3 linked regions of the Homo sapiens genome follow. The protein of the gene in region 1 purifies or fractionates together with the protein of each later gene. This does not show direct contact. Each region holds a gene or a part of one and is shown in the gene's direction. Other genes may lie near its edges.

Region 1 (7,119 bases):
TTCCCAGAATAGGTCATTATTTGGTGTTAGTAATTGGTCATTCACGCATCTGCATACCCTTTGTTTCCTTAAGTAACTCTCCTTTCTGGTAACCACCTTAGGTTTGTCAAGGTGGAAGTCATGTGGTCAAATCAAATGGAAACACAAGTGTGTTAGGTATTAGATTCATTTTCCTGTCCCCAAAGCACCCGTTTGGTAATGCTGGCAGAAGACATACATGCGGCCAACAATCATAGGAAAAAAAGCTCCACATCACTGATCATTAGAGAAATGCAAATCAAAACCACAATGAGATCGTATCCCATACTAGGCAGAATGGCTATTAAAAAGTCAAAAAATAACAGATGCTGGCAAGTTTGTGGAGAAAAAGGAACACTTATACACTGTCGGTGGGAGTGTAAATTAGTTCAGCCATTGTGGAAGATAGTGTGGTGATTCCTCAAAGACCTAAAGACAGAAATACCATTTGACCCAGCAGTCCTATTACTGGGTATATATTCAAAGGAATATAAATTATTCTGTTATAAAGACACATGCACATGTATGTTCATTGCAGCACTATTCACAGTAGCAAAGACATGGAATCAACCTGAATGCCCATCAGTGATAAACTGGATAAAGAAAATGTAGTACATATGCAGCCATAAAAAAGAATGAGATCACGTCCTTTGCAGGGACATGGATGGAGCTGGAGGCCATTATCATTAGCAAACTAACACAGAAACAGAAAACCAAATACTGCATGTTCTCATTTATAAGTGGGAGCTAAATGATGAGAATACATCGACGCAAAGAGGGGCACAACAGACACTGGGGCCTACCAGAGGGTGGAGGGTGTGAGGAAGGAGAGGATCAGGAAAAATAACTAATGGAGAATGGGCTTATTACCTGGGTGATGAAATAATCTGCACAACAAACCCCCATGACACACGTTTGCCTGTGGAACAAACCTGAACATGTATCCCTGAACTTAAAAAAAAAATCAAATTGATAGTCTATAAACAAGCTGCCAGAGGCTCCAGTGAAACCTGGGAGCTGTGGGCAGAGCAAGTAGGCTGTCTCTGTTACACTCTGCCACCTCCTAGCGGTAGCAGCTTTTAGTTCCTGTGTCACAGAATTGAACATTTTCCTGCTTTGCAAGGAACTTTCAAAGGCTAATTCGCCTTTACTCTCACCTGCTTCCGTGGAGGAGGTGAATAAAGCCTGTATTTCAGTGATGTAGTAGTTTCTTAGGCTGCTGTAACAAAGTACCCCAAATTTGGTGACATAAAACGAGAAATTTATTCTGCACAGTTCAGGAGGCCAGAAGTCTGAAATTGAGATGGCAGTAGGGGTAGTGCTACCTTGGGAGGCTGTAGGGGAGAGTCTGTTCTTTTTCTCTTCCTACCGCTCCAGTTTCTGCTTCTGTGGTCACACTGCCTTTTCTTCTCTGTCTCTCCTTTGTACATCTTTCATTATGAGGACACTGTCATTGGATTTAGAGCCCACGTGGATAGACCAGATGATTTAATCTTAAGATCCTTACTAACATAGCGAGACCCCATCTCTACCAAAAAAAAAAAAATTTTTTTTAAAGATCCTTTTTCCAAATAAGCTTACATGCATAGGTTCCAGAGGTTTGATGTGGATATACCTTTGGCATGGGCAGGGGGCACTGTTCACCACACTATAAGTGGTTAGCGCCTTTTCTCTCCTTTAAAAAATAAAAAATCTGTAAATTCTCACTGCTGCTAGCACAGCTCTGTGTAAACCAGTGTTTTTTTTTTTTTGTTCCCTACTGAGAGCCAGCTTGCACCTTGGTCTACCAAGAGTTGCTGCTCAGTACATAGCTGCTTCATTATTTGTGTTGATTGCATTATTTATTAACACAAATAGCCATTTAGTTTTTTTAATAGAAAAAATAATTAAGATTTTGCATAATGTTTGTAAAAAATGGAAAACTTGATACAGAGATCGAAGAGGATATAAAATAAGATAAAAAATAAAAAATGGAAAATTTGATAGCTTAAGCCACTAAATTGCCCTTAAGGTGGAGTGCAAGTCAGTAACATTTCATTTTGCAGCATGTATAAAATAATTTCTGTTTTAAGGCTGTCTTTAACTGTTGCTCTTCATTTCTCTGCAGGTCTTTTAGATAACCCTGAACTTCGTGTGGTCCTTGTCTTTGGTTATAATTGCTGTAAGGTGGGAGCCAGTAATTATCTGCAGCAAGTAGTCAGCACTTTCAGTGATATGAATATCATCTTGGCTGGAGGCCAGGTGGACAACCTGTCATCACTGACTTCTGAAAAGTATGTCTTGTGTGCTTCTGATTTCGTCTGTGAATGAAGGGAAATGGTCTCAGGTTTTGTCACTTTGGGGTTAACAATTTAAAAAACGTGTTTAAAGAATTATTAAGATAATAGTTCATTCCATTTTGTAGTAGACATTGGCTAAGGGGCTTACTGAACATAATTCTGCTTACGGTTGAATAATTACATTTTTATATATATTGTCCTTCAAGAACTTCCTTGAGTCACATTCTCCTTAAAATTTGACATTGCCTGTTGATCTTTCCTTTGACAGATGTGGTACTCTGTGTGACCTCAATGTGTCACCTCCTTTCTAGTTTCCTCCTTTAAAGGAAACACATGGTTAGAGTGTATCTTTATGGCAAAACTTCTCAGAGCTTCTAATATGCCCAGTGCTGTGGAAATCTGGAAGGAGAATAGCATTACCTGTGACAGTTCCCAAATGTGTTTGGTCACAAAACTTTTTTCCACAGAATGTCTTGCAAGTCGTACTGGTTTTTGGAAATTCTGTATTAGATCTTTTGAAAGGCTTTTTCAAGCTTAAAAATTGTGGATCTTTTTTGTTACTAAGGCTTTTGCTTTCAAAGATAAAAATATTTGCTCTTCTGTCTTGGGAGCCATTACTTCCTTTCCATCTTGAATGAAAATACATATCATTTTGAGTTTGAAACAATTAGGTGGACATAAATATCATTTGTTTCCAGCAGGAAAATCAGACCCTACCCCACCCTCAATGCTTGTAAACACTACTATTTGTTTCCCACTCTGTTTAATATTTGCATCCTAGAGTGGTGACATGGGGACAGACTGTTGCAGATCAGTATCTATAAGAATAATGTAAGTCATCCTAGTTATAGTCTCTCTTCTGGTTATCTCTATGAGCTAGATCTGGGAAAATAGCTAAAGTTGAGGTCCCTGGACTGCCAGGGAGGAGGAAGAGAGGAAGGCCAAGTACGTTGAATCCCAGGCAGGATATCAAACACTGGATTTTGTGCATACATACACTGAATTCTTGGTGGCTATCTAAGTTATTTCCCCTCTTGCCTAATTTTTCCTGTGTCTTTGCTATTAACTTAAATTGTGTACGGATAGGGCAATGGTGATTCAACATACAGTTTACCTTTGAAATGCAGATACCTCACTCAGACTTATAACATCTGAGGTGCTAGCTTGTAAGTGTAGCTATTTGTATATCATCTACTTTTTATACCTAATAAGAGAAACACCCCCCACCCCAATCATTACTCTTCACATGACCCATTAATTTTAATGTGGTCTTCATACTCTGTCAGTGGTTAAGAGAAACCATTGAGTAAATGAGGGCTCCATTTTAATAAAGTCCAGATAACCCAACTGACCCAGTGCCCCAAAAGGAAGATGTATAATTCTTTGAGGCAAGATTGACAATGTATATTAACAATTCTGTACCAAAGAGGAAATGTGATAAAGTTTTAAGAGCAGCAGAGGACTTCAGAAGACGGATTTTGCCCCTCACAAACTTGTTTTACTACTAGCTAGCCTTATTACTTTAGTCACTTAACCTTTTTGCGTCTTAGTTTCTCACTAATCCAGTGACTCTTGCCCATTTTATAGATTCAGATGTTGGAAGCATGATACAATACTTGTTTATCCCCTAGTGGATGTTCACTATATTATGCTTTATTACTTTTATCAATGTTGTATTTTCTTTTGTAAGGATATTTCATTTTTTAAAAAAACCAGGCAAATATAAACAAAAACAAAGCATGAGTTTTTACCATCAAATTAAGCTGAACTCTAGACTCAAAGCAATAAACAAGACAAAAAAATAACATAATCATATTTTCTAGTGGACTAGACATAAAGCTAAAACTTCTAGAGTTAATAGGTTTTTAAAATTATCCTCTGAGTGCAGTGGCTCATGCCTGTAATCCCAGAACTTTGGGAGGCTGAGGCAGGAGGATTGCTTGAGCCCAGGAGTTTGAGACCAGTCTGAGCAACATAGTGAGACCCTATCTCTACAAAATGTTTACAGATTAGCCAGGTGTGGTGGCATGTATCTGTAGCCCCAGCTCCTTGAGAGACTCAGGCAGGAGGATTGCTTTATCCCACGAGTTTGAGGCTGCAGTGAGCTATGATTGTGCCACTGCACTTCAGCCTAGCTAACAGAGAACCCTATCTCTAAAAAAATAAAATCACCCTCCATTATTATATTTTTAATATACATCTTTCAGAATTTGACAGCTGAAGTCGGGGGGAAGAGATGTTAATGTAAACAATAGCAGAAGGCTTCGTTTAGTGGATATCTTTGTGTATATTAATAAAATTATAACATTCCTTTTAAGGAAGTCAGAAAGGTAAGGAAACTGTACTTTCTAATAACCGGATATGGGTTTCAGAAATCGTTATGGATGTGCATTGCCCCTTTGTATTTGTGACTGAAAAAAATGGTGGCTTCTCTTGATCTGCCTTGTGCATTTTTTATGTATTAATTTTGATTTTTGACCCTATTTTACTCACCTATGAGGGTGAGCCTCAGATTAACCATAGGCTGCTAAAGGCAGCAGCCTCCCGTCAGTGAATCAGGAGGATTTTGCTTCTATACTTAAAAATTTTAATGTTTCATGAGATATTGCCACTTTTCTAAATTTTCCAGGAACCCTCTGGATATTGATGCCTCGGGTGTGGTTGGACTGTCATTTAGTGGACACCGAATCCAGAGTGCCACTGTGCTCCTCAACGAGGACGTCAGTGATGAGAAGACTGCTGAGGCTGCGATGCAGCGCCTCAAAGCGGCCAACATTCCAGAGCATAACACCATTGGCTTCATGTTTGCATGCGTTGGCAGGGGCTTTCAGTATTACAGAGCCAAGGGGAATGTTGAGGCTGATGCATTTAGAAAGTTTTTTCCTAGTGTTCCCTTATTCGGCTTCTTTGGAAATGGAGAAATTGGATGTGATCGGATAGTCACTGGGAACTTTATATTGAGGAAATGTAATGAGGTAAAAGATGATGATCTGTTTCATAGCTATACAACAATAATGGCACTCATACATCTGGGGTCATCTAAATAATAATTAAAGTGGCTTTCATAATATGTAACTTTTGGGTTCTGCCTTTTTCAGAAAATGGAAACTTGGGCCATGTGTATTTCAAACAAAAATAACTTTAGATATATCTTTTTTGTAGCTTTGATTGATGCTCTAAGATCACATGAGGGTAGTATTTAATATATTAGATGAAGGACAACTTTGGACATAACACTGACTAGGAGTTGAGAGCTTTTGCATCAGGCAGAAGCAAACTGATTATAGTTGTGTTGCACCAGATCATGTAGCTGCTGTGTAACATGACCTTAAATAGTCTTCCTGCATAGGAAGAGCAAAAGGGTATTCATCAATAGGATATAGATTTAAGACATTCCCTGACTACCCCTTGCGTTGTTAGGTGATGTCTTTTAGCAGAATCATGAAGACCTTTTTTCTCCCTTAATAAAGGAGAAAAATATACTGATGGCTGGAGAAATTTTTCTCTGCCTTTCAGTTTTATGAATTTTTTCAGAAGTAACAATATTATTATTGACTTTTTACTTATTTGATAAAAATTAAAGAACTATTTTTGTTTTGGTCAGATAAATTGACAAGACTAATCAGTATTTTATTATAAGTAAAAGATTTTTCTTCTTTCCTTAAAAATATTTTTTTTTCACCTAGGTCTAAATAGCTAACTAACTGGTAGACCAGAGTATTACATCATCTTATTTTGGTTTTATACCAATAAAACATAGCGTGGAACTCATTCAGGTAATGTTTTGCATTTCATTGCTTTTGGATGAACAAAGGAAGTAAACTAATCCTTTATAAATGAAAACCCAGAATAGTTGGTATGTCAGCTAGTCATTCCTGTCATATTCCCAGTAGAATGATTTTCAAGTTTGAATTTCTGTACAAATATCTAAATAAGAGATGTGCAGAGAGCACCAATTTTCCTTCAATATCCATTCTTTACTTTTCACATAATGATAGAACCTTTGATTTTTCAAGTGGGTATGCCTCCTAGAATAAAGACTACATTTCCCAGTCTCCTGTGCAGGTATGACTGTGTTCTGGACAATGGAATGTGAGGGGAAACGATTTTTTGTGTCCTTAAAATGGCATGACCATTTATTTGCCCCTTTCTCCATCCTGTTGCTTGGAATGTGGATCTGGTAGTGAGCCATCTTGGACCCTGAAGAGGAGGCAACACACCATTGTAGAAGAAAAACAACAGAAGGATCCTGGTCCCTGTACGACCTCATTGAAGAAACACCATAAGTGGCGTGGACTATCTACCTCCAGACTGTTTTACAAGAGAGAAATTAGCATATTCCATCTAATACAGTATGATGTAACTAATGTTACTTTTGTAACAGTCAGTGGTTTGTTCTAACAGGACAGTAGAACACTTGCAAGGTAAGTAAAACCAAATGTATTAGCATTATTCCTGCTTTTCCTTTTTTGTCACTTTTATCCTTTTTTTAAAACTGAAAATATTTTTCTCTTGCTATTTATATATATATGATAAAAATGCTTGGAAGAGTCCTTTAATTTATGGTTATTCTAAATCCTAGTTCCTGAGGCAAGTCCAAAGAAAAATTTGTCAAAACTTTTCATCTATGAATATTTATATTTAGCTCTTGCTATTTAGCTATTATCAAAATACCTCAAAATTTTAGTCCTTGAATGTGCTCATATAGCCCATAAGGCAAATATTTTTTAAACTTTATTGTCCCTGATATTAACCAGAATTGGTTGAATAGTAGAGGAAAAGGGATTTTTAAAACTGAAAATATGAACAAAATGAGCCTTAG
Region 2 (3,989 bases), on another chromosome or scaffold:
GCTTAGGGTCAGTGCCTTGATCTGTGCTCAGGTGCCAGCAGTTGTACCTATCCTAGGTAAATGACAACACAGTGACAAAGGCTAATAGTTTAATATTATAAAAATAGCCATGTCTCACTTGCTCCCTGACAGTGTCTCAGGAACCCCTCAGAGGTTCACAGACCACATTTTCAGAAGTGCTGTTATAGGAGGTGGAACTGAATTGCAGAGAACTTAAACAATTTATCAAATATCAAACATTTGAGTAGTTAAATCTTAGAACACCTCAGATATTGGGTGTAGGAGGCTGTAGTTTATGCCTAATTGTTAGATTGATACAAAATGTATTTACTGATTACCTATTCAGTAAATGAATTGTCAATAAGTAGGGAACTGTTTCCACTCAATAAATGAACTGTAGCATGATTGTAAGAGCAGATGTGAGCATCCACATCCTTTTAGACTCACTGCCCTGCCCCTCTCTCATTTTTTAAGCCATGTCCCTAAGGACCTTCTCCCAGGTATACCTATCAGACCTTTCATTCAGCCAATATGCTGAATGAAATATCCCCCCGTATACCAAGCCCTATGCTGGGAATACGATGAGGACTTGGGGTACTTACCTGCTTCTGGAAGGAATAAAAGTTCTGAAGTACTTTGCCAGGTCCCATGGTAGGTGACTCTTTTTCATCTTTCCTGTTAAGAACATATTTCTTGGTTGGGCACAGTGGCTCATGCCTGTAATCCCACCACTTTGGCAAGCCGAGGCAGGCAGATCACCTGAGGTAAGGAGTTCGAGACCAGACTGGCCAACATGGTGAAACCCCGTCTCTACTAAAAATACAAAGATTAGCTGGGCATGGTGGCACGTGCCTGTTGTCCCAGCTACTCGGGAGGCTGAGGCAGGAGGATTGCTAGAACCCAGGAGGCTGAGGTTGCAATGAGCCAAGATCAGGCCACTGTATTCCAGCGTGATCTCAGCTCTCTGCAAGCTCCGCCTCCTGGGTTCACACCATTCTCCTGCCTCAGACTCCCGAGTAGCTGGGACTACAGGCGCCTGCCACCACACCTGGCTAATTTTTTGCATTTTTAGTAGAGATGGGGTTTCACCATGTTAGCCAGGATGGTCTTGATCTCCTGACCTGGTGATCTGCCTGCCTCAGCCTCCCAAAGTGCTGCGATTACAGGCATGAGCCACCGTGCCTGGCCAAAAAAAACACATGTCTTATAGTTGAGTATGGTTCTAGTATTTCTTCATGGCAGAGCCCTGGAGAACCCGCAGGGGAACAGTTGAGGGAATGTAAGAAGGACTCTTGATTCTGGCACTTAACTCCTGTGTTTACTAAGTTTGTTATAGCTGGATTTTTTTTTTTTTTTTGGTCACCTAGAAGCAGGAGAGGGCAGAGATAGGGGCAGACTTTGACTTAGCAAGGTCTTTAACTGTTAACATTTTTCAGCCCAGAGAGCTGCCTTGCTCTCTAAAACAGTTACTTTGTCCTGGTTCACTCTTCCCTGAGTAGAGGACAGTTACCTTTGTGTGCAGGTGGACGTTCCTTTCACCCTCCTTCCTTCCTGTTTCCTCAGAGCCAGGACTGTCTCCAGTTTGGTCCTCCTGCTGAAGGGGAAGTGGTCCAAGTGAGATGGACAGACGGCCAAGTCTATGGAGCCAAGTTTGTGGCCTCCCACCCTATCCAAATGTACCAGGTATCCAAAGTTCTACCTTTCTAGGGAGTGGGGGGTGCTTGATTAATTCTGTGCTTCCTGTTGGGCCAGAGGCGAGTCTTTGCTCTTAGGAGAACTAATAGGTTGGTAACCCTTTCAGAGCTAGGGGTCTGCCCTGTTTCCAGTCTGCCAAATGTGAAGTAAGGTAGTTGTTATTTTAGTGTTCTAACTCCTTCCTTTGACTGTAGGGGACTGCCACTGTGCATGGTGGACCAGGGAAAGAGTCAGGGATATCCTAGCCAAAAGGCCTTTGTTTCCTTGGTAGGTGGAGTTTGAGGATGGCTCACAACTTGTGGTTAAGAGAGATGATGTATACACACTGGATGAAGAGCTTCCCAAGAGAGTCAAATCTAGACTGGTGAGTATTTTCTGTGTCCCCCCAGTTCCTGTCTTGGAGGGAGGGAACAAGTCAAGGATGCATCCCTTTGTATTGTTCCTGGGGTAGCTGACACTTGGCTTGCTTATTCTTCTATAGTCAGTAGCCTCAGACATGCGCTTCAATGAGATTTTCACAGAGAAAGAGGTTAAGCAAGAAAAGAAACGGCAACGAGTTATCAACTCAAGATACCGGGAAGATTATATTGAGCCTGCACTATACCGGGCCATCATGGAGTAGGTGCTTCCAGGGTCCAAGGGATTCTCAGCCATCCAGGCAAGAGCACTCTGGGTTCCACAGCACAGCAGACATGGAACGCTGAAGTCTCTGAAAGTGAAGTTGTAAAAAGAAAAGGAATGAAATAACCGACCCATCATCTTCTCACCCACCCTCATTGCATTCCGCTGTAGTGAAAGGACGAGCCATTTCTGGGCACGTGGCAGCAGTCGCTGATCTCCCAGCTGAGGGGCTGAGCACTGGAATGCTGTGGCTGCACTGGCCCCAGTCCATAGAGGGGTCAACTATGCTGGCTGGACTGGCTGCCTTGTTCCTGGCCTAGGACTTAGCTTCATAACTATCACCTGCACCGACTAGGCTGAGGTGCTGGTACTTGCCCCAACCCCTACTTTTGTATTTATATGTGTGTGTGTGTGTGCGTGCGTGCGTGCGTGCGTGTATGTTTGGTCTGGACCAGCTTCTGCCAGCCCCTGGCCTTTACTTTCTTCCTTGCCTATGCAGGGCAAACAAAATGTGAAATTCTGCCCTCAGCTGAGCTGAGTAAGGGCTCCTGGGGGTTGGCTGGAGATGGGTGTGGCATCTGTCCAGGCCTGGAACCGTCTCAAGACAGTGCTGGCAAAGCTGCAGTATTGAGATGCTAAGGAGCTGATGCCACCTCTTTGTCTTCCCCTAAAGGAGAACATGGGGATAACATGGGTGTGTGCCCACAACACTCTAGGTGCAGAGCCCCTGTGGCAAAGTATTACAGGGTGTGGGTGGGGATTACCCTGAATCGGGGATTTTAATGATGGAAGCAGGCAGAGCCTGGTGGGTGATTCTGTCAACAGAAAATTGCAATCATGCAGGGGCTGGGAGGGTTAGGATGAAAAAACTGGGGCCATTGGAGGCCCACTGTAGGTGGGAGGGAGCTGATTTTGGGGTGGGGGGTGGGACTAGAGGGCAATACTGAAGGGGTTAAACAGGTTTTTGCTCCTCAAGAATTTGTTTGCCTGGGCCCAGGATTGGAGGGCTTCACACCAATACCCTGTGTATACAAGAATCAGATTTATAATACTTCCCCTTTTTTGTTACGTATGAACACTATAAACCAAATTATTTTGAAAACTGGTGCATCACCTTGTCCTTAGCAATAAAATGTGTTGAGCAGAGGATTGGCTGTCTGCCCCAAGGAGCCCACGTGGCCCACGTCAGGCTGGGGGGTGTATCTAGAGTCATAGGCTCTGGAGCGGGGCTGTGTATTTTAAGACAAATCAGTAAGGCATTCCCTAGGAAGTTCCAGAGAGTGGGTCCTTTGCTTGTCAAGCTCTGTATTAGGCCAAGTATGGTGGGTCATGGGAGCAGGGACACTTCTGGCTCTGAGCACCTCTTTGTTGTGCTTGCTCTGCCTTAGAGACGGGCAAGATGAGGTAACAGAGGAAGCACCAGACCAATGAGTCCTCTCAACAGAGTATCTCTCACTGCTGCCCCATTTGATACATCTTTGTTGAACTGGCCTAAGTTCATGCCAGCATCTGTGCTCTATACAAATTGTGGAACCAGTGGGAAGGATGGGTGCATTTTAGGTGCTTGAAAAGCAAGGGACTCAACCTCCAGTGGGATCCTCAGATTGCTCTCCGAGCTGTCTAGTTGGTGAGAAGCTTCCCTGGAGGAAGACCCAATCTCCTTTGGCTGGTAG
Region 3 (7,105 bases), on another chromosome or scaffold:
TCTAGTACACGGCAGGATGGGTGGGGTCTGTGTGACAGTGACAACACCCTCCGCCTGCCCCGGGAGCCTCAGAGTCTGGCCCAGGCAGGTCGGACTGGACTCCGAGGAGGGGAGGTTGAGCCAGGACCTCTAGAACACCATGGAAGTTTACTCCAGAGATCAGGCTGAGCATGTGCCAGTCTCTCTCCCTCCCTCAAGAAACCTATGGAGATGATAGAAAACACACAAATAGATAAATAGCCATTTATAACGTACACAGAGCACAACTGTGGTGGAAAATGACAAGGGAGACTCAGGGTGGGTCTTGACAACATCCCACAGAAGAGGCGCTGACGCAGCCCCCACCCTGGTGGCGAAGGAAGTGCTCCCAGGATCATTGTCATGTCACCAGAGCCCAGGCAGGGCCAGCGTCAGGGGAGCTCACCTCAAGGAAGCCGAGCTAATGAGACAGTCAGAAATGAGATGATGCCAGCCAGGCGCGGGGGCTCATGCTGTGATCGCAGCACTGTGGGAGGCTGAGGTGGGCAGAGCGCTTGAGCACAGGGGTTCGAGACCAGCCTGGGCAACGCAGCAAAACCCTGTCTCTACAAAAAAACAAAATTAGCTGGGCATGGTGGCACGCACCTTTAGTCCCAGCTACTTGGGAAGCTGAGGTGGGAGGATCACTTGAGCCTGGGAGGTTGAGGATTCAGTGATCCAAGATCGCGCCACTGCACTCCAACCCGGGTGATGAAACAAAGCCCTGTCTCAAAAAAAAAAAAAAAAAAAAGTCACATTTCCAGAGTGCTCGGGGCGGGGGGGCAGAGGCTGTGGAATCAGGAATGGGTGGTATCGGAAGCCAGCAAGCCACCGTGGAGTGCGCGCCTGCCTGCGAGGTGGCGGCAGGACCTCGATCACACAATCATGCAAACGCCCGCTGTGTGGTGGCCAAGGAGATGGGGCTGGAGCTGCCTGCCCCGAGGCCAAGGGCCTGGTCAGCGGGGCGGGTGGCTGGGGTGGGCCCAGGTGACAGCGAGGCCGAGTGGCTGAGACCCCCACATGCCAAGGCCCCAAGAGCCTCCCCGCCTGTCCGGAACACTTGGAACATGTTTCCCTCGCACGTGACCCCTCGAGATGCTTCTGAGACGTGCCGGGCAAGACGTCACCACAGGGAGCCCGGGCCGAGGCGCACGCCTCTGATTTCCTGTAGCTGCAAGTATATCCAGTTTTCTCAAAATGTTAAAAAGCAAACGCCGCCTTCAGAACTCGCCCTGTGGAGACTCATAGTGAAAGCACGTTCCAGGGAGGCCACTGGGAGGAAATCAGCCTGAGTCTCCAGTCAGCCCCCAGTTCCCAAATGACCCAGGCACAGAAGTTTCCCTGGAGCCCACTTGGACCCGGCAGTGTGAGCGCCATCCTCCTAGGCGGTTCTGTGCTCCTGAGAATCTGGGGCGGATCTCTGCAGTCTTCCTGACCCAGAAACCTGAGCCAGTTTCCACTGAGTTTCTAGAACGCGCCTTCCCCTCCTGGCAAGGCTGCTTCTGTGCCTGACTGAATCACTGTGTGCCACGCCTGCCAGAAGCCGAGAGGCCGAGTCGGGGCCGGGGAGCTGGGGAAAGGCAGCAGGTGGGCCCTGGGACTCCTGCAGTGGGAGCTCTAAAACCCGCTGCTGCCCGTGGCAAAGCGGAGCCTCCAAAACCCGCTGCTGCCCTTGGCAAAGCGGAGCCTCCAAAACCCGCTGCTGCCCGTGGCAAAGCGGAGCCTGGCCACGCCGGGGGTGGAAATCGCTTTCCGGGGTGCTGGGGCTCCGACACTAGGACTCCTTCACCCAGACTCTCCTCACCGGACAGACGCTGGGAAGGGGCCTTCTCCCGGTGGCTTTCCTCTACAAATGAGATGGGTAGGACGGGGCAGAGGGTGGCACCCATGTCCTTGGTTCCCAGCAGGCTCCTCCACACATCCCCGAGAGATGTGTGCTGTCGTCCCAGGACACGGCCCAGAGGCAACCGGCCATCTGAGAGTCCACACTGGGCACTCCCAGCCCTGCTTCTCCCGCCGCCTGCGCCGGCCAAGAGGCATGTGGAACCCACAGCAGACACTTGCTCCAGGGCCTACGTCTGTCTCCATCCCCACCCATCCCTGGAGGAGTCACAGGGACCGGCAGGCTTGGCTGCCCCAAGGCAGGGTCTGTGCTCCCTTGGAGAGGGAGGTGCTGCGATCCCGGGCCCCCCCGCTGCACACTACGTGGGGCGTCTAGCCCCAGACACACTTCCGCGATGGTCTTACTGTGTGACTTTTATACACTTCCGTCATGGTCTTAGTGTGTGACTTTTGTACGCTTCTGTGACAGTCTTATGTGTGCATTTTGTTCATTTTGAGACGGGGTCTTGATCTGTCACCCAGCCTGGAGTGCAGTGACATAATTAGAGCTCACTACAGCCTCCACCTCAGCCTCCTGGGTAGCTGGGACCACAGGCACATGCCACCATGCCTGGCTTGTTTTGAGTTTTTAAATGTGAAAAGCGAGCCCTCTGATATGGGAACCTTCTCCCCCTGGAGCAGAACGGCAGTCAGGCCCAGGGAGTGACCCCAGCACCTTTCCTGGCTTGGGAACACGGCGCCCATCGCAGTTATGAGGTGGGCCTGGAGACACGCCCCTCCCTGGCACGCCCTTCATGGGACAGTGTTGTGTTGCCAGAGGGCCCCTGAGAGAGTCTCCGCGAGCCTGAGCTGGCACCAAGCTTAACGAGGAGGAAGCGGGGTGCTCCCAGTGCCCCTCACCAGTCAGGCATCTGCCACCTGGAACAAGGCACCAGCTGGGGAGGCTGGAAGGGGGTGATTTTTCTCTGAGTTGAAGGGAAGAGGTGACTGAGCTGTTTTCAGAGGGCCACACATAAGCCAGGGACCCTGTCCTTCACCTTCTGGTTGGGGGCTCCTGAGCTCAGGCCCCTGAGTCCGCCTGTCCGGCCTCCCCTGCCTCCCAGGCCCTGTTAGGGCACTGCGCCTCCTGCCTGGCTCTGTGTCCACCAGTGACTCTGTCACCTTGTCCTGGGGCTGTGTCTTCATGGAGACAGATGTCTTTTGAGCTGGGAGGAGGTGAGGGGTGAGTGTTCTGTCTCCATGTGGAAGCTGCGGGGCCCTGCCTCTGCCCCAGGCTGTCCCGTCCTCCGTCATCCTTGCCCCGTGGTACGGGACCCTCAGCCTGATCCTTGTTTGCTGCAGGCGGTGTCAGAGGTGGACATGAGCTTCAGCTTGGCTGCATGTGGCCTCTAGCGGGCCCCATGCACCCAAGGGGGCTGGCCTCCCAGCTCTTGAGGCCGTGGCCTGCCTGGAGCACCTGCCATCCTGGCAGTGCCAGGCCCCTGAGAGCCACATCCCCCTGCAGGTGGAGTTTGAGGACGGGTCCCAGCTGACGGTGAAGCGTGGGGACATCTTCACCCTGGAGGAGGAGCTGCCCAAGAGGGTCCGCTCTCGGCTGGTGAGTGCGCGAGGCTGGCCTGGTGGCTCCGGGTGACTCAGGGAGCCCGTCTGGGACGAGGCAGGGCACAGACTGCGTCTTCCAATGGCGTGGACCACCCCCTCCTCTTGCACCTCTGCTGGAAGGGGGTCCCGGCCGCCCCAGCACAGCTGGTCCATGGGCTCCTGGCAGGAGACCCTTCCTTTGCCTTGACTCCTGGTGCCGCAGCTCCTGGGCGATGCCGTTAATGTGGGGAGGGAGGGTTGGAGAAGCCCCGCCCCTCCCCTTATCACGAATGCAGAACAGACCCTCCCAGCCCCCTGTGCCCTGCAGGACCCGCGCTGCCCCACCCTGCACAGGGCGGCCTCTGAACCATCACAGGTTTTGGGGTACAGGCGAAGTACGGGCACCCCAGTTGTCGGCTTAAAAAAGCTTTTCCTGAGGTTTTTCCTTATTAAACGGGAGCCTGAGTCCTGGAGGCAGCGGAGGCAGCTCCAGCTTTCGCTCCCCCAGCCCTCATGGGCTTCCTTTATTCTCTTTCTAATCGAGAGGCGAGAGGCGAGGTGTTGAGGGGCAGAGCCCGTGGGGGAGGTTCCTGGTCCTGGCCACAGCTGCTCAGCCGCAGAGGGGTCCCTCGGAAAACAGATGGGAGCTGCCAGATGGACGGTCCCAGCCCCAGCCAGGGTGCCCACCCCACTAGGGGGCCAGAGGCTGGGGCCGAGTGCAGGGCCCCTCTGCTGGCAGGATCAGGGGTTTACAAACACGAAAACAGGAGCCTGCTGAGCAGCCCCCACAGCAATCAGGGCTCTGTGTCCAGCCAGCTCCTCTCAGAGGCCATAGACAGTGGCTGGGGCCGCACAGAGTGTCTCCACCGTGCTAACCACTGTGCTTCCGCTCTCCCGCAGTCACTGAGCACGGGGGCACCGCAGGAGCCCGCCTTCTCGGGGGAGGAGGCCAAGGCCGCCAAGCGCCCGCGTGTGGGCACCCCGCTTGCCACGGAGGACTCCGGGCGGAGCCAGGACTACGTGGCCTTCGTGGAGAGCCTCCTGCAGGTGCAGGGCCGGCCCGGAGCCCCCTTCTAGGACAGCTGGCCGCTCAGGCGACCCTCAGCCCGGCGGGGAGGCCATGGCATGCCCCGGGCGTTCGCTTGCTGTGAATTCCTGTCCTCGTGTCCCCGACCCCCGAGAGGCCACCTCCAAGCCGCGGGTGCCCCCTAGGGCGACAGGAGCCAGCGGGACGCCGCACGCGGCCCCAGACTCAGGGAGCAGGGCCAGGCGGGCTCGGGGGCCGGCCAGGGGAGCACCCCACTCAACTACTCAGAATTTTAAACCATGTAAGCTCTCTTCTTCTCGAAAAGGTGCTACTGCAATGCCCTACTGAGCAACCTTTGAGATTGTCACTTCTGTACATAAACCACCTTTGTGAGGCTCTTTCTATAAATACATATTGTTTAAAAAAAAGCAAGAAAAAAAGGAAAACAAAGGAAAATATCCCCAAAGTTGTTTTCTAGATTTGTGGCTTTAAGAAAAACAAAACAAAACAAACACATTGTTTTTCTCAGAACCAGGATTCTCTGAGAGGTCAGAGCATCTCGCTGTTTTTTTGTTGTTGTTTTAAAATATTATGATTTGGCTACAGACCAGGCAGGGAAAGAGACCCGGTAATTGGAGGGTGAGCCTCGGGGGGGGGGCAGGACGCCCCGGTTTCGGCACAGCCCGGTCACTCACGGCCTCGCTCTCGCCTCACCCCGGCTCCTGGGCTTTGATGGTCTGGTGCCAGTGCCTGTGCCCACTCTGTGCCTGCTGGGAGGAGGCCCAGGCTCTCTGGTGGCCGCCCCTGTGCACCTGGCCAGGGGAAGCCCGGGGGTCTGGGGCCTCCCTCCGTCTGCGCCCACCTTTGCAGAATAAACTCTCTCCTGGGGTTTGTCTATCTTTGTTTCTCTCACCTGAGAGAAACGCAGGTGTTCCAGAGGCTTCCTTGCAGACAAAGCACCCCTGCACCTCCTATGGCTCAGGATGAGGGAGGCCCCCAGGCCCTTCTGGTTGGTAGTGAGTGTGGACAGCTTCCCAGCTCTTCGGGTACAACCCTGAGCAGGTCGGGGGACACAGGGCCGAGGCAGGCCTTCGGGGCCCCTTTCGCCTGCTTCCGGGCAGGGACGAGGCCTGGTGTCCTCGCTCCACCCACCCACGCTGCTGTCACCTGAGGGGAATCTGCTTCTTAGGAGTGGGTTGAGCTGATAGAGAAAAAACGGCCTTCAGCCCAGGCTGGGAAGCGCCTTCTCCAGGTGCCTCTCCCTCACCAGCTCTGCACCCCTCTGGGGAGCCTTCCCCACCTTAGCTGTCTCCTGCCCCAGGGAGGGATGGAGGAGATAATTTGCTTATATTAAAAACAAAAAATGGCTGAGGCAGGAGTTTGGGACCAGCCTGGGCTATATAGCAAGACCCCATCACTACAAATTTTTTACAAATTAGCTAGGTGTGGTGGTGCGCACCTGTGGTCCCAGCTACTCGGGAGGCTGTGGTGGGAGGATTGCTTGAGTCCAGGAGGTTGAGGCTGCAGTCAGCTCAGATTGCACCACTGCACTCCAGCCTGGGCAACAGAGCGAGACCCTGTCTCCAAAAAAAAAAAAAAGCAATGTTTATATTATAAAAGAGTGTCCTAACAGTCCCCGGGCTAGAGAGGACTAAGGAAAACAGAGAGAGTGTTACGCAGGAGCAAGCCTTTCATTTCCTTGGTGGGGGAGGGGGGCGGTTGCCCTGGAGAGGGCCGGGGTCGGGGAGGTTGGGGGGTGTCAGCCAAAACGTGGAGGTGTCCCTCTGCACGCAGCCCTCGCCCGGCGTGGCGCTGACACTGTATTCTTATGTTGTTTGAAAATGCTATTTATATTGTAAAGAAGCGGGCGGGTGCCCCTGCTGCCCTTGTCCCTTGGGGGTCACACCCATCCCCTGGTGGGCTCCTGGGCGGCCTGCGCAGATGGGCCACAGAAGGGCAGGCCGGAGCTGCACACTCTCCCCACGAAGGTATCTCTGTGTCTTACTCTGTGCAAAGACGCGGCAAAACCCAGTGCCCTGGTTTTTCCCCACCCGAGATGAAGGATACGCTGTATTTTTTGCCTAATGTCCCTGCCTCTAGGTTCATAATGAATTAAAGGTTCATGAACGCTGCGAAACCCCGTTCCATGCCCCGGCAAGTGTCTTCATTTCTGAGCCTGTGCTAGGGGGACTGATGTTGGGGCCTCCCTGGGGTGGGGCTGCCTGCGCCCCGTTCTCCCGGGAGAAGGTTTGCTTCCAGAGCTGGATGTCCCTCCCCTCCCACTCTCCAGGGTCCCCAACACACCCCCACACACCCAGGGGCAGCTGTCATGCCCCTCATGCTGTGGCCAGGCTGGGTGGCTGGGGCAGCGGACCCCATGATTCCCCCTCAGTTCTCTGGAGGCCTGGCCCTGGCCTCACTCGTCCCAGCCAGCAGCTGCCCTGTCCCTGTCCCCCATCCGGTTCTGGTTACATCTGAGCCCCGAGAGCATTGCTTGTGGTGGTGGTGGCTGGCAGACGTGCTAGGCGCTGGGGCTCACGGCCCTGGATGGCCACTGGGACCCAGCAGTCCTGGCCTGGGTCACTCAGTGCCCAGCCCCACCAGGCCTGGAGTCGGCAGAGGGGACACGGGAGACCT

What was found.
Region 2: the proteins of FBXO22 (region 1) and KDM4A purify together in Homo sapiens (affinity purification with western blotting; 2 studies listed by BioGRID, with this or other methods). This does not show direct contact.
Region 3: the proteins of FBXO22 (region 1) and KDM4B purify together in Homo sapiens (affinity purification with western blotting; 3 studies listed by BioGRID, with this or other methods). This does not show direct contact.

Annotation. Positions count from the first base shown.
Region 1 is NC_000015.10:75,927,759-75,934,877, forward strand, and holds part of FBXO22 (F-box only protein 22), read left to right. Parts: intron 1-2,125; coding exon 2,126-2,291; coding exon of another isoform or gene 2,292-2,328; exon of another isoform or gene 2,329-3,109; intron 3,110-4,926; coding exon 4,927-5,344; 3' UTR 5,345-7,119. UniProt on the Homo sapiens protein: Substrate-recognition component of the SCF (SKP1-CUL1-F-box protein)-type E3 ubiquitin ligase complex that is implicated in the control of various cellular processes such as cell cycle control, transcriptional regulation, DNA damage repair, and apoptosis.
Region 2 is NC_000001.11:43,702,054-43,706,042, forward strand, and holds the end of KDM4A (lysine-specific demethylase 4A), read left to right. Parts: intron 1-602; exon of another isoform or gene 603-675; intron 676-1,510; exon of another isoform or gene 1,511-1,563; coding exon 1,564-1,683; intron 1,684-1,966; coding exon 1,967-2,059; intron 2,060-2,176; coding exon 2,177-2,317; 3' UTR 2,318-3,465; downstream 3,466-3,989. UniProt on the Homo sapiens protein: Histone demethylase that specifically demethylates 'Lys-9' and 'Lys-36' residues of histone H3, thereby playing a central role in histone code. Does not demethylate histone H3 'Lys-4', H3 'Lys-27' nor H4 'Lys-20'.
Region 3 is NC_000019.10:5,146,994-5,154,098, forward strand, and holds the end of KDM4B (lysine-specific demethylase 4B), read left to right. Parts: intron 1-3,364; coding exon 3,365-3,457; intron 3,458-4,341; coding exon 4,342-4,518; 3' UTR 4,519-6,605; downstream 6,606-7,105. UniProt on the Homo sapiens protein: Histone demethylase that specifically demethylates 'Lys-9' of histone H3, thereby playing a role in histone code. Does not demethylate histone H3 'Lys-4', H3 'Lys-27', H3 'Lys-36' nor H4 'Lys-20'.